Homo sapiens: one gene and its partner. Each later gene encodes a partner of the first gene's protein in a complex. Each region holds a gene or a part of one and is shown in the gene's direction. Other genes may lie near its edges.

Evidence for each region. Proteins that work in one complex are often made in the same cells at the same time.
Region 2: GPKOW (region 1) and CWC22 share a complex: the UniProt entries of both Homo sapiens proteins name them as parts of the minor spliceosome.

What each region holds. Positions count from the first base shown.
Region 1 is NC_000023.11:49,113,454-49,121,348, reverse strand, and holds part of GPKOW (G-patch domain and KOW motifs-containing protein), read left to right. Parts: intron 1-1,534; coding exon 1,535-1,644; intron 1,645-3,538; coding exon 3,539-3,752; intron 3,753-4,186; coding exon 4,187-4,319; intron 4,320-5,025; coding exon 5,026-5,128; intron 5,129-5,334; coding exon 5,335-5,458; intron 5,459-5,553; coding exon 5,554-5,623; intron 5,624-7,410; coding exon 7,411-7,496; intron 7,497-7,593; coding exon 7,594-7,728; 3' UTR 7,729-7,895. UniProt on the Homo sapiens protein: RNA-binding protein involved in pre-mRNA splicing. As a component of the minor spliceosome, involved in the splicing of U12-type introns in pre-mRNAs.
Region 2 is NC_000002.12:179,947,674-179,955,568, reverse strand, and holds part of CWC22 (pre-mRNA-splicing factor CWC22 homolog), read left to right. Parts: intron 1-534; coding exon 535-612; intron 613-1,211; coding exon 1,212-1,364; intron 1,365-2,970; coding exon 2,971-3,098; intron 3,099-4,642; coding exon 4,643-4,744; intron 4,745-4,836; coding exon 4,837-5,057; intron 5,058-7,895. UniProt on the Homo sapiens protein: Required for pre-mRNA splicing as component of the spliceosome. As a component of the minor spliceosome, involved in the splicing of U12-type introns in pre-mRNAs. Promotes exon-junction complex (EJC) assembly.

The sequences.
Region 1 (7,895 bases):
TCAAGCGATTCTCCTGCCTCAGCCTCCCAAGTAGCTGGGATTACAGACACGTGTCACTACCGCCTGGCTAATTTTTGTATTTTTAGTAGAGACGAGGTTTCGCCACGTTGGTCAGGCTGGCCTTGAACTCCTGACCTCAAGTGATCTACCCACCTCAGCCTCCCAAAGTGCTGGGATTACCGGCGTGAGCCACTGTGCCCAGCTCCTTCATCTTTAAAGAAAAAAAAGATCCTCACTTCCCTCTTCATCCTTTCATCCTGTTCCAGCTTTGGCCTCATTCTTCTAATTTTTCCCTCTATAAACCTCCTCCTGCAGCTTTCTACATATCAGGTGACCAAAAATTCCATCCATCCTTCCTCTCACTCAGCATAAAAACCTTGGAGTCAGCCAGGGGCGGTGGCTCACGCCTGTAATCCCAACACTTTGAGAGGCTGAGGCCAGCGGATCACCTGAGGTCAGGAGTTCAAGACCAGCCTGGCCAACATGGCGAAACCCCATCACTAGTAAAAATACAAAAATTAGCTGGGCATGGTGGCACGTGCCTGTAATCACAGCTACTCGGGAGGCTGAGGCAGGAGAATCGCTTGAACCCAGGAGACTGAGGTTGCAGTGAGCTGAGATCATGCAACTGCACTCCAGCCTGGGCAACACAGCAAGACTTCATCTCAAGAAAAAAAAAAAAGAAAACCTTGGAGTCATCCTCAATTCCTCTCTTTATTTCGTGCCCCATACAATATGCCAGCACAATCCTATCATCTTTTTTCAAAATGACACCCAGAACTGACCACTTCTCACCACCACCAATACCACTGCAAAGGGCTGAGCCACCAGCATCTCTCATCTGGACTATTAGAGTAATTTCCTCACTGGTCCCTCTTGTGGCTCCCACCTGGCTCAAGGTCCTCTGACTCCTGCCCAGCTCTCCTGATTTGGTCTCTTCCCCACCCTTCTCTGCTGTCTACTCTCACTCTCTCCATTTCAGTCATGGTGACTTTCATGATACCCCTCACACATACCAAGCCTTGTCCGGCCTCAGGGCCTTTGCTGTTACTATGCTTTCAGCTTGGGACACTTTCTTCTCATATCCTCATGGCTCCCTCTGCTGTCATCTCCTGATCTCTGCTTAAATGTCAACCCAGTGGCACTCCCTCTCCATCCCTCTGCATCTTCTTACCCTGTTTTCTTGTTCTTTACATCACCACCTGACATATCATGTTTTCTGGGTTTTATTTATAGTATGTCTCCACAACTAGATCAGAAGCTCTGCAGGGGTAGGGGTTTTTGTCTGTTTGGTTCACAGCTTCATCCCCAGTACCTAGAACAGTACTTGCCATAGACAAGGTGCTTTATATTTGTTGAAGGACTGAACATGGAGGAGTACAGTGAGGGATGGAAAGAGGAAATCAAAACTCACCCTTGAGCTGATTGGAAAAGACGCGTAGCAGGTCTCCCAGTGGGGGGCAGCAAGTGCACTTCAAATAGAAGACCCAGTGTAAGCAAAGCCTGACCCTCCTTCCTCTACCTGAACCTGTAGGTGCCAGAGGAGGCTAATTATGAGGCGGTCCCCGTGGAGGCCTATGGGCTGGCCATGCTGCGGGGCATGGGCTGGAAACCTGGCGAGGGCATCGGCCGCACCTTCAATCAGTGAGTTCTGGGATAGGGTCGAGGGGACAGACAGATCATCAGGCTGCAATCAAGATCCCCAGGGTCACTGCCAAACCAGAACCACCTAGGCAGGGAGGGAGGATACATTATCGCCCTAACTAATTCAGCAGCCCCTTCCACTACTGTTTTAAACTCCCATTTGCCCTTTGAAACTCTAATAGAATCCCATTTATATAAAGTTTGCCTCTAGGGACATCAATTTCCTCATCTGAAAAATGGGGGTAATAGTACTGACTTCATAGGTCTGTTGTGAGAGTTAAATGAAATTATACACATAGGCCAGGTAGTGGCTCATGCCTGTAATCCCAGCACTTTCGGAGACTGAGGCAGGAGGATCACTTAACTCCAGGAGTTTGAGACTGGCCTGGGCAACATAGGGAGGCCCCATCTCTACAAAAGATTAATTAATTTTAAGAAAAGAAATTAGGGCCGGGTGTGGTGGCTCACACATATAATCCCAGCACTTTGGGAGGCTGAGGTGGGTGGATCACGAGGTCAGGAGATCGAGACCATCCTGGCTAACACGGTGAAAGCCCATCTCTACTAAAAAAAAAAATACAAAAAATTAGCCGGGCATGGTGGCGGGTGCCTGTAGTCCCAGCTACTCAGGAGGCTGAGGCAGGAGAATGGCGTGAACCTGGGAGGCGGAGCTTGCAGTGAGCCGAAATTGCACCACTGCATTCCAGCCTGGGTGACAGTGAGACTCCGTCTCAAAAAAAAAAAAAAAAAGGAAAAGGAAAAGAAATTATATACATAAAGCACATACAGTAGGCCCTGACCCCAAGAAAGCGTAGACTAAACATTTGCTATTGTCATGCAGACTTGCAACCCTTTCTTCACAATTGCAAACTCAATAATTCTGAAAACCAAACATTTTTTCATAACCCATTGGCAGCCAAATATGACCTGAATTGGCGTTTTTTTTTTTTTTTTTTTTTTTTTTTTGAGATGGAGTCTCTGTCTGTCACCCAGGCTGGGATGCAGTGGCGCAATCTCGGCTCGCTGCGACCTCTACCTCCTGAGTTCAAGTGATTGTCCTGCCTCAGCCTCCTGAGTAGCTGGGATTACAGGCATGCACCAGCATGCCTGGTTAATTTTTGTATTTTTAGTAGAGATGGGGTTTCCCCATGTTGACCAGGCTGGTCTTGAACTCCTGACCTTAGGTGATCTACCAACCTCGGTCTCCCAAAGTGCTGGGATTACAGGCATGAGCCACCATGCCCAACCATGTTGAGTATTTATAATCCGGTTTCTCCTGCTCGGTGTGAATGTTCATATGATTTCCCCTGTAGAAATAGTATATTTGGTTACAGCGATCTGCCTCTGATCTCACTGTAGATATTATGTAATAGATGGTATATGCAGCATGTTATTAGGTTGAACCAAATGAAATTGCTGTTTCTGTAGGTCAAAAACAGTCCTAATATGAGATCAGAAAGGGCAACCTTGAAAATATTGGTGGGGGCTGGACACGGTGGCTCACACCTGTAATCTCAGCACTTTGGGAGGCCAAAGAGGACGGATCACCTGAGGTCAGGAGTTCAAGACCGGCCTGACCAACATGGTGAAACCCTGTCTCTACTAAAAATACAAAAATTAGCCGGGCATGGTGGCATGCGCCTGTAACCCCAGCAACTCGGGAGGCTGAGGCAGGAGAATCCCTTGAACCTGGGAGGTGGAGGTTGCATTGAGTCGAGATCGAGCCATTGTACTCCAGCCTGGATGACAAGAGCAAAACTCCATCTCCAAAAAAAAAGAAAAGAAAAGAAAATGTCAATGGGGCGGGTGGGGCGGGTTTGGGCAGGAAGAGGAAGTAAATAAGGTGTTGAAGACTGTTGCATCCTCTCCAACAAACCCATATTCCTCCCTGCAGAGTAGTGAAGCCCCGTGTCAACTCACTGAGGCCCAAGGGGTTAGGGCTGGGTGCCAACCTGACCGAGGCCCAGGCCTTGACCCCCACTGGCCCCTCCCGCATGCCAAGACCAGATGAGGAGCAAGAGAAAGATAAGGAAGATCAGCCTCAAGGGCTGGTGCCTGGAGGAGCTGTGGTGGTTCTTTCTGGCCCTCACCGAGGCCTCTATGGGAAGGTAAGGAACCAAGATATCCCGGGAGCCCAAAACAGGCAGCAGGGAAGGTTGATCCGAGGGTCAGATGGAGGAATAATTGGATTTGAGGTAGAAAGGCTGGGACTCCTAGTCTTTTAGGTCTGCTTGGCCCACTGCCTCACTCAGTAACCCAGGACCACTTGCTGGCCTTTGTGAGCCTCAGTTCCCAGCTAAAAGGAAGAGAATGCCATATGCCACAAGTCCCTGAAGATTAAATGCTTAAAGGATCCAAGGAAGCCCCACAGTCAGCTGAGGGAGACACAGGAACCAGACCTGGTCCCACTTCTCAGGGGTCAGAGTCTGGTTGGGGAGACAGAGGAAGCAGGCCTCTTAGAGGTAAGGGGTTGACATCTTGGTCCTAGGAATGTGGGTGGAGTCCACAACCCCTACCTGACTTCTTCCCCTCAACACTTTAGGTGGAAGGCCTTGATCCTGACAATGTTCGGGCCATGGTTCGTCTGGCTGTGGGGAGCCGGGTGGTGACTGTTAGTGAGTACTACCTGCGGCCTGTCTCCCAGCAGGAGTTTGACAAGAACACCTTGGATCTCAGTGAGTGAGCCTCTTGTAGAGCTAGGGGAGTTGGCAACGCATTCCTAGGGGTGGCAGGGCCTGGCTAATGGGGTGGTTTTAGATCTGCAGCAGGGAGGGGCAGCAGTGTGCCTGGCAGATATGACTTCCAATCAGAGGTCAGGAGGTGAGAATGGACATAAGTGACTTACTCCATTTGATTGGAGAAAGGTCGATGTCATACCCCTGGGTCTGTAGCCTGTCTGAGTGAGAAGAAACAGGTGCAGAAACCAATTCCTACCTTCGAGATCTTTGTCCATTTGGGGTGATGAACCTCTCTTTTACTAGGGAGTGAGAACTGCTAGGATTAGGGTGTGACCAAGAAGGAAGGAATTCTAGGCAGACAGAACAGCACAGGCGAAGGCGTTTCGGTAGGACGGGGCAGTTTGGCAAATGGGTACAGACAGAGCTCTCTGGGAATCTCTAGTCCACACTAGGTGAGCATTGTTGTTGTGGGCTAGGTTGGCTGCGGGAGGGTTCCTGAAGGAAGCTGAAATGGTTGAGAGGTGGGGGAGAGGCATTCTACTAGCAAATGCATGAGGGGTGAGAGGGGCACTTTGGCAGGTGGGAGGTGGCTCTAGGCTGAGACATGGCCTTGGAAGGAAAGGGCAGTGAGACACTGAGGCTCTGTCCTGGTTCTCCTCATAACCTCTTGAACAGGCCAGATGAGCAAAACTTCCTTCCCCAGGGCAACAGAACGGAACTGCCTCATCACGGAAGACCCTCTGGAATCAAGAACTCTACATCCAGCAGGACAACTCAGAGAGGAAGCGGAAACACCTTCCAGACCGGTGGGACTCTGAGCATGCGGGAGGGGTCAAGAAGGCAGGGCTGTGGGTAGGCTCGAGCAGCCAGGGAAGGCTTCCAAGGCAAGGCGGGCTCATAGAAGGAACGGGGAACTGCATTGTGGGTGGGTTTCATAGCATAGGCAAAGGGAGGGCAACTGGAAAGTGCATCTGATGAAGAGCTAAGCCTGGTGCTGGCACCTTCTCCACAGACAGGATGGGCCTGCAGCCAAGAGTGAGAAAGCAGCCCCCAGAAGTCAGCACTGGTTGCACAGGGACCTGCGTGTGCGGTTTGTGGACAACATGTACAAAGGAGGCCAATATTACAACACCAAGGTGGGAACCCTGCAGCCTGAGTCCCCCTCCCTCTCCTAGGGACTGGGCCCCCCTACCTCTCTAAAATCTCACATCCCCCTGACCTGTATCCCCAGATGATAATTGAAGATGTCCTAAGCCCAGATACCTGTGTATGTCGGACAGATGAAGGCCGAGTCCTGGAAGGTGAGTTTGAGCGATGGCAGCTGGAGGTTGATCAAGAAGAGTGTTTTAGGCCCAGAGCCTGGCCCAGGCAAAGCTGGGAGGTTTGGCAGAGTTCAGGTATTTTGCAAGGCCTAGCATCCTCTTACAGAACATTAGACACTTCCATGATGGTGGTTGGTTATCTTGAGCCCCACTCTCCCAGTCTGTCAAGTTTTCTTTTTTTTCTTTTTTTTTTTTTTTGAGACAGAGTCTCACTCTGTCACCCAGGCTGGAGTGCAGTGGCGTGATCTCAGCTCACTGCAACCTCCACTTCCCAGGTTCAAGCGATTTTCCTGCCTCAGCCTCCCGAGTAGCTGGGATTACAGGCAAGCGTCACCACACCTGGCTAATTTTTGTGTTTTTAGTAGAGACAGGGTTTCACCATGTTGACCATGCTGGTCTTGGAACTCCTGACCTTAAGTGATCCTCCCACCTCGGCCTCCCAAAGTGCTGGGATTACAAGCGTGAGCCACCGCGCTCGGCCTCCGGTCTGTCAAATTAGCATGGAATTTACTATTTCTTCCTCTTGTGATTGGTGCCTTAGTGAAGGAATGTGTATTGAGCTCTCAGTGCAGGGCAGGGGTTAAAACATGCCCACAATAAAAGGTGCCTGTTGTTATCACCACCACCCTTTATTACAGTGATTTTTGTAAACTACTCCTTAGGCTACCTCATCTGTGAAATGGATGTGGCGGGACTCCCATCTGTCAACAGGGTGTAGAGTGGCTCCAGGGAATACAGGAAAGGCCCTTCTTTTTTTTTTTTTTTTTTTTTTTTTTTTTTTTGAAACAGAGTCACTCTGTCACCCAGGCTGGAGTGCAGTGACGCAATCTTGGCTCACTGCAACCTCCGCCTCCCGGGTTCAAGCTATTCTTCTGCCTCAGCCTCCTGAGTAGCTGGAACTACAGGTGCCCGCTACCACACCCAGCTAATTTTGGTATTTTTAATAGAGACAGGTTTTCACCATATTGGCCAAGCTGGTCTTGAACCCCTTACCTCGTGATCCTCCTGCCTCAGCCTCCCAAAGTGCTGGGATTACAGGCATGAGCCACCACACCCAGCTGAAAGGCCCTTCTTTTTTTTTTTTTTCTTTTTTTTTTTTTGAGATTGGGTCTCATTTTATCACCTATGCTGGAGTGCAGTGGCACCATCATGGATCACTGCCACCTCAAATTCCTGGTTTCAAGCCATCCTCTCACCTCAGCCTCCTGAGTAGCTGGGACTGCAGGCACTGACCACCATGCCTGGCTAATTTTAAAATTTTTTGTAGGCTGGGCGCGGTGGCTCATGCCTGTAATCCCAGCACTTTGGGAGACCGAGGAGGGTGGATCACCTGAGGTCAGGAGTTTGAGACCAGCCTGACCAACATGTCAAAACCCCATCTCTACTAAAAATACAAAATTAGCCAAACGCAGTAGTGGGTGCCTGTAATCCCAGCTACTCAGGAGGCTGAGGCAGGAGAATCGTTTGAACCCAGGAGGCGGAGGTTGCAGTGAGCCAAGACCACACCATTGCACTCCAGCCTGGGCAACAAGAGCCAAACTCAGTCTCAAAAAACAAAACAAAAAAATCTGTAGAGATGAGGTCTGACCATCTTGCCCAGGTTGGTCTCGAACTCCTGGGCTCAAGCGATCCTCCCAACTTAGCCTCCCAAAGTGCTGGGACTACAGGTGTGAGCCACCACGCCTGGCCAGGAAAGGCCCTTCTGACAGGACGCTGGTTGGGCTGGTCCTTGCTGTGGGCCTCACTCCCCTCTCCCTTATCCATAGGCCTGAGGGAAGACATGCTGGAGACCCTGGTTCCCAAGGCAGAGGGTGACCGTGTGATGGTGGTGCTGGGCCCACAGACTGGAAGGGTGAGTCTCAGACCTGGCAGTAGAGGTTTGTGGGTCGTTCAGGGCCTGTCCCAGGGTCTAGGCTTGCCTTGCTGATTCCACTTCACCTCTGTTCCAGGTGGGACATTTGCTGAGCCGGGACAGAGCACGGAGCCGGGCTTTGGTGCAACTGCCAAGAGAAAATCAGGTGGTGGAGCTTCACTACGATGCCATCTGCCAGTACATGGGCCCTAGTGACACAGATGATGACTGACCCATGGGACTCCTCCCATCCCCCAGGCTGGTACCAGTTCTGTACCATATGAGAAAGTTGCCTTCAGAAGGTGGGAAGATCATTGTTCCATCCTCTACTTCTGGTGCAGTCCTGGGACAAGGACAAGGGAAAGGGATGGGTGAACCAGTAGGGAAGCTAGAAACAAA
Region 2 (7,895 bases), on another chromosome or scaffold:
TGTTTTTTGATGTTTCTTTATCAACGTTAACTTTATGTTAACGTTGAAGTTGTACCTACTTATGCCTCTGTAAAGACTAATAATGATCTGCCTTTTCCATGCTAAATATATTCCTTAGCAATTGAATTCATATCCTTGGGACATATGTAACTGAATTGTTAGATGTTGTGTTGGTGAGTCTATATTTAAAAGAATTCTGCATAGAATCCTTTAAGAATGCAGTGTATTAAATCTCTCCCTCATATGTCTGTTTCCTATACTAGATTTTCTTGATGTGGTTCATACTTATCATGAATTTAGAATTTTATAATTAATGTAATTAGCATAAATGACTGTGGAAGCTGTCAGCCAGACCCAAGCCTGTAAAAAATGATGAGTTTAACATAGATTGAGGTTTTTATTTTATTTACAAAATTTTTGAACTGTTTTAAACCCTTATTTAAAAATGCAGGCAGTCACTATCATACTGGTAAATTATACAATATTTAGTCTCTTTGTGTTTTGAATCATTAATGTATTTTTTTTCCCAAATAGAAAGAACTCTGCAACATGATACTTGATTGCTGTGCCCAACAGAGGACATACGAAAAATTTTTTGGCTTATTAGCTGGGGTGAGTTCCAGCCTCTACTGAGGGAATTCTTAAAACGAATATTGTAAATTAATGATTTCTGCTTTATGGTCTGGTCTCATTTAAAAACATATTACCACTTTTGCTAAAAGCAAATTATTCTCTCCTTCCTCAGGTTTCCCACTCTCTTCACCTTCCTCTTTTTCTACTTCATTTTTGCAGTGCTTTAACTTTGCATATCACTTTTCCAGAGCTTTTTGGAATTTTCCATGATTTGTAATGATTTCCCAATAGACGACAAGTAAATGCTGTCTTTTCAAAATCTCAAAGCAGTGTCTAAAGTCAAGTACATGTTCAGGCAGCACAATTAAAGCATGATCTAAAATATTTCTTTAAGCTCTACCCTCATGTGATCACCTACATGTATGATTTTGTTTTAACATGTAAATCTCAGGTAATTAGAAACCATATATATTAACTTCTTTTTTGAGCATCATATGGCACAAAAGGATTTAGTGATATATGCTCTTTGAAAATATAAAGCATATTAATAAAGTTTTGATTCAGTAAATTTAGGATTTAATATGCTCATAATTGTATTAACATTCAATTTTTAATGGTACTGATTTTTTATTTATTAGCGATTTTGCATGCTAAAGAAAGAGTACATGGAATCCTTTGAAGGTATATTCAAAGAACAGTATGATACCATCCATCGCTTGGAAACAAACAAGTTGCGAAATGTTGCTAAGATGTTTGCTCACCTTTTATACACTGATTCACTTCCATGGAGTGTAAGTACATGGGTCAATATTTATACTTCCTTCCTAATTCCCTGTTCTCAAATAGATTTTCGTATAAGCTAGCCATATTTATCCTATTATGAAATGTGCTTTAAAATGAAATGTGTAGAACTGCTGTCTTTGAGATTATCATCATGTTATAAGGAATCAGAAAGCTAGGTAAATAATATACAAGAAATACTATCTTTGTATTATATTAACAGTCCAAACATGCCAGTGTTTCGATAGTGATGGCTAGGAGTGTCTTCAGGAAAAGTACTGCAGATTTTCATCTTCTCTGTGTACACACACGTGCATGCACACTCACATCCACATATGCCACTATTTTGGTGGTAAATGTGTCTCTGAATTACTCTCCCTTGATTCCTGAGGGAATAACTCTCCATGGTTCTCTTGTTGGGTTTGAGAAAAAATGATTGTTCTAGAAGGATGTGTTCTTTTTAGCAGACATTGAAGTTGGGTAAGCTATAGAGAGGATATCCTATAGTCATAGAACAAAGAAAGATATATTCTTGATAGGGAAATGTGCACTGGATTGAAATTTGAAAGGCGTTCATTAAGCTGGCATTGATTTTACAGCTGTTTTTCAACCAGTGTTAGTTAGCCACCACTTATATACTGAGTCATTGAGAGAGGTGCTGTGTATTCAGAGTGAATTATACATGGCCCCTCCTTTCAAGAGGGTTACAGTATAAGACCAGAGGTAAGATATGCCCATAGCAATGATACAAAATAAAAAGTCTTAGATTCTAAGAAAAGCAAAATTACTAAAGGAATTTGAAAGAAAGAAAGAGAGAAGGATGAGAAATTACATCCAGGAGGAAAGAACAGGATTATCTTGTAGAATGCCATCCTACTAATGGTAGAATGAGGCAATATCTCAAACTTAAAAACATTGGTTAGATTTTTATAGTACTTTAAGTACCAAGTATGTCCAGCTACATTAATAGGCATTCGTAATCTAACCTAGGAGACTAATTGTAATAATTTTTGACTTCTTTTTTCCCCTCTTTGAGAAAATGAAGTGAGAATTTTAAACAATTAACCAACTAATGGGCCCCCCAAACACATAACCCATAAAAACTAGAGGTTACTTTTATTTTTATTTTCCCTAAAAATATTTCTTTAGGCATTTCAGTTTTTAAGCCACAGTCTTAATATTCAGAATAAACCATTATACTTTCTGTCTTTTTTTAAATCGTATGTTATGTGTGCTAAACAAAATTGTAGCCTAATGTGCTAAGTGGCATTTTGCCCCAAACCTTCATATACACCACATTTTGATGAGTAAGGTTTAGGAGCTAGTAATCTTTACCATTATATGCTCAAGAGAGGATATCTTCCCTGCTATAAAAAGCACATTACTCAAAACAGAGAATGAAATCTATTTCTGTCGCATCTTAACATTTTGAAAGTTAGTATAGAGAAGTAGTTTTAAACTTTATGTCAGCATAAGGGGAGATATTCAGAGATAACTCTGGTTGAAGATGGGAATAAATAGTAATTTTGAGAAACACTTAAACCTACAAATATTGGTCACTATGTCCTGTCTTTTATAAATTAAAATATACTTGTCTTTTTTTATTTTAATTTTCAGGTTCTTGAATGTATAAAACTGAGTGAAGAAACCACTACATCATCCAGTAGAATTTTTGTCAAAATATTTTTCCAGGAACTGTGTGAATACATGGGTCTTCCTAAACTTAATGCAAGATTAAAGGATGAGTAAGTTTGCCATTAAGCACTTTTTATTCTTATTGACCTCTGGTTTTCTCCCATTGTAGCAGACATAAGCCCATCCGAGACTGTAAAAACAAGAGCTAAGCCCCCTGAGACTTTCTTCATCCATTAATCACTGTGAATTTCATGTTATGTCACACAGGACAACATGCAACTTTTAGTGGTGGTTTTTAGTTTAAGTGGAGTTCAAATTAATGCCTTTTTAGATTTTCTTAGAAAATACAGAATTGTTTTTGTATGCTCACTTGAATTCTCCAGTGATATTTATAATTTTATTTTCTTTTTACCCTAATTTTAAGCCTTAGAATGATAACTAATATTATCAGTGGACAGTTTTGAGTATATATTTCATCTATTAATAATTGTTCAAAATATTACATAGAACTAGAGCCTTATTTCAGGATTATTATGTAATCCCCTCTCACCTTTCTTATTTCCTGTTTGTTCAGATTGCCACTTAGGTTGACTTCTACTCCATTGACACTACTGAAATCATCCTTTCAGATTTCTCAGTGACCACCTGCCATATTCAGTTGTCTTTCTCAGGCTGCATGCCTCTTCACTTCTCTGCCTCACTTATGCAGTTGACTACCTACTCACTGTGGCTCCATACTTTCTTCTCACTTCCTCTCTCAGTCTTCTCCTCAGCCTGCCTCTTCAGTGTTCCTGGGTTCCACACACTGTCTCTGGACTATTCCATCCACTTCTCTTGGCTTCATATACTTACTTATTTGGTCCCTGTCTACTTGACCAGGCTCGTCTTCTCTCTCTTCAGCAAGCTGCACTCCAGCCATACCAACACTGCCAAGCTTGTTAAACATATCTGGCTCTTTCATGCTTCCTTACCTCAGTTTCCACTGCTGGCATTCTCCTGTCTTATTGATCTATCTGGGAAACTCTTAATCATTCTTCTTATATTGTACCTTTTTCTGTGAGAAAGTTTTTTCTGACTCCACTGAGTAGTTACTCAGTGTGGTGCTGAAAACCAAATGTCCAAAACCACCTTGTATTGTTAGTGTCTTTCTGGTTGTCTCACTCCATATATATTGTAATTATATGGTCTTCATCCTTGATTTCTCCCTTTTGTTGATGACTTCCACCTCTCCCCCAGTACTTGGCACAGTTCTATGTATGTGTGTGTACGTGTACATACACAACAGAGAAGGTTTTTAAAATTTTTTGTACATATATTCACTATATATACGTGTGTGTATATATATACACTATATATATTCACACGTGTATATATGTGTATATATTTATCTTTCTATATGTGTGTGTGTAAAAAAAGTTTTTTAAAAACCTCCTACATTGTATAATGATAGAAATCAAGTTTGGTACATTATTACTTGACCCTACTCATTTCATTTAGATAGCACGTAGCCTAACCTAATAAATGACATCAACTAGTTACTTGGTTGTATTTCATTTAGTAATTTAATATATGAAAAATCTGAAAAATGACTAAGGATTTTACCTTTTTATCTTTAAGCAATGTGTTCTCTTTTGTTTATTTTTTTCCTTTTTAGAACTCTGCAGCCATTCTTTGAAGGATTATTACCCCGAGATAATCCAAGAAACACTCGGTTTGCCATCAACTTCTTTACTTCTATAGGTCTTGGAGGTTTAACGTAAGGATTATTCTCAGAATTTATGTTCAGATTATAAAATTATCTCATAATTGTCTTTGAAATAGAATCTAACAGATTATATTTTAAATTAGGGATGAACTGCGGGAGCATCTCAAAAATACACCAAAGGTCATTGTGGCGCAGAAACCAGATGTTGAGCAAAATAAATCCTCCCCATCCTCTTCCTCTTCAGCGTCCTCCTCTTCAGAGTCTGACTCATCCGACTCTGATTCTGACAGCAGTGATAGCAGTTCAGAGTCTTCCAGTGAAGAGAGCGACTCTTCATCCATCAGTAGTCATAGCTCTGCCTCAGGTATTGAAGCTTATGTGTAATTTGGCTTGCTCTTTTCTAATAAATATGTTGCTGATATATATGAAGGAAGAAAATAATTTGATTGTTTATTTGTCTTAGAGATCAGTTGTTTAAAAGCCACAATTAATACAAATGGTCCCATCTATCATTCTTGCAGTCTGTAATACAACATTTATAATGCTGGGATTACCTTTTGACATCCTCATCATAGAAATGAAAATATTTCATTCGCAGATACTTATCTGAGTGATGACTGATATGAACCATCCATTCATAATGTTTGTAATCTAGTTTATAGGAGCTATCCTGATGTTTTTATTTTAAATAAATTTTAGTTTTTTACTTTTAATATTAAAGCTGTTTGTAATTGAGATATATCATACATTCATTGTGGATCTCAGATGCTATATGAATTTTTATAAAGGGAACACATCCTCATAGCTAGCACACAAATCAAGATATACCGGTACCCCAGAAGTTCTCTGTGTTTCCTCTCCCAGTTACTACTCCTTCCATCCTCATGGCAGCTACTATTCTGATTTGTAATTTCATAAATTAATTGTGCCTGTTTTTACCTTTAGCATTATGTATTATGGACTCCTTTTTATGTCTGGCTTATTTTTTTACCATTATGTTTGTGAGATTTAGATGCATTACTGCATTTAGTTATAGTTAATTCAGTAATATTGCTATGTAGTTTCCTACTATATGAATATACCACAATATATATTTATCATTTTTGCTCAACAGACTTTAGATTTTCAAGTGATATTTCCATGTATATTCTTGTACATATCTTTTGATGACCTTATTTATTTATTCACATTTCTACTGGGTATGTACCTATAGGTGGAGTCAGTGTGTCATAAGATGTGCATATATTTAGCTTTGGTGAATACTGTCAGTTTTCCAAGTGGTTATTCCTATTTACACTCCCACCGGCCATGTATAAGAGTTTCATTAGCTCCCATTCTCATTAATACTTCAAATTGACCGTCTTTTTCATTTCAGCCATTCTGGTGGATGTGTAATGGTACTGCATGGCGGTTTTAGTTTTAATTTGCATTTCAACTAGAGAAGTTAAATGCCATTTTATCCATTATTGGCCATTTGGATTTTTGTTGTCAAGTGGCTGTTCAAGTATTTTACCAATTTTTTTTAGTTAAGTTGTTTTCTCTGTTGATTTGTAGGTTTTCTTTACATATTCTAGATATGATATCTTTTGTACATATATGTATTGCAAATAACCAGTCCCATTCTTGTCTCTCTAGCCCTGCAAGGCTACCAGACCTCTGGTGTCTCTGTCCCTCAGTAGCATCCCTGAATCAGCAGATGCTCCCAGGGAGAAAGTAGCTGTAGAACATCACTTACTTCTCAATGTTTCTGCTTTCTCCTGCATCTTGGCCCCTCTAGTACTTGTTTTTCCACTAGCTCTCTGATGCCTTTATATTTTTTACTTTGTAACTGTAACCTTTTATTCTGAGCTAATTTTAGATTTAGGAAAGTTGCAAAAACAGTACAGAGAATTTCCATATACTCTTCATTCCAACTTCCCCTAATGGTAGCATCTTACATAACACTGGTTCATTTATCAAACTAGGAAATTAGCATTGGAACAGCATTATTGACTAGACTACAGATGTGATTTGAAAACCAGTTTTACCACTAATGTCGTTTTTCTTATTTCAGGATTCTGCTAGCATTTAATTGTATTCTCAGTTTTCTGCATTCTATGATAGTTCCTCTCGGGCTTTCCTTGTTCTTAATAGCTTTAACACTTTTGAAGTCCTCTGGTCACTTATTTTGTAACCTGTCCCTCAGTATGGAGTTTCGTCTGATGTTTTCTCCTTATTAGAATGAGATTAGACATTTTTGGCAAGAGTACATTAGAAACAATGTGTTGTTCTTAGTGCATCTTATCAAGAGGTTCATAATTTTATTTTGGGTGACAACCTTGATCACTTGAGTAAGGTGGTGTCCACTGGATGTCTTCAGGGAAACTATTTTTCTCTGTGAAAATGTCTTGTAGGGAGGTAACTTGATACTATGCAAATCTCTTTTTCCTCCAGCTTTTACTCACTAATTTTAACATCCATCTTTGGATGGTTAAAAAATCACCTAATGGTGATTTTTTATTTGTCTGTTTTCTTCTACATCTAGTAATTGAATTTCTTCTATAAGAAAGTATTGTCCCTCTTCCCTCATTTATTTATTTAGTCAACTGTAAATATCAATATAGACTCACGGTTATTTATCTTATCCTGTGGGTTAAAGTCCAATACTGTCATTTATTTTGCTCAAATCATCTTAGCTTTGGCAATTAGGAGTTCCTTCAACTTGATTTCTGTGTGCTTTTCAACATTTTTCAATGCAACATTTTAAAATTGTATCTGGCATTTCTAGTTATTTTCAGCAGGAGCACAGGTTTGCCACAGTCTTCTCTATCCTACCTGGAAGTGGAAATGCTATAGTAAAAGATGTTTTCAAAGTTTGATCTGGTTCACAGTTTCTGAAAAGATCTGTGTTGTTTTACCCAAGGTCAGCTCTGCTTTCTTTCATTACAGTATCTTGGTCCAAATAAGGGATTGTCTGCTTATCCTACATGCATGTCATTTCTCATTTTGTTTTGTTTGGATGCAATATTTCATCAAATATGGCATCAATACTTTCCTCTGTAGCCTTAAATTGAAAGGCCAATCTTTACACCTTTGTTCCATAGCTTGTTATGTTTCAAAGTGTTTTACATACTGTGTGACATCCAGAATTGTGGGGCTGTTTTTTTAATTATCAGAGAAAGATTGTTTGCTTACAGGAACTTTTATTCATGAATTGAAGTGT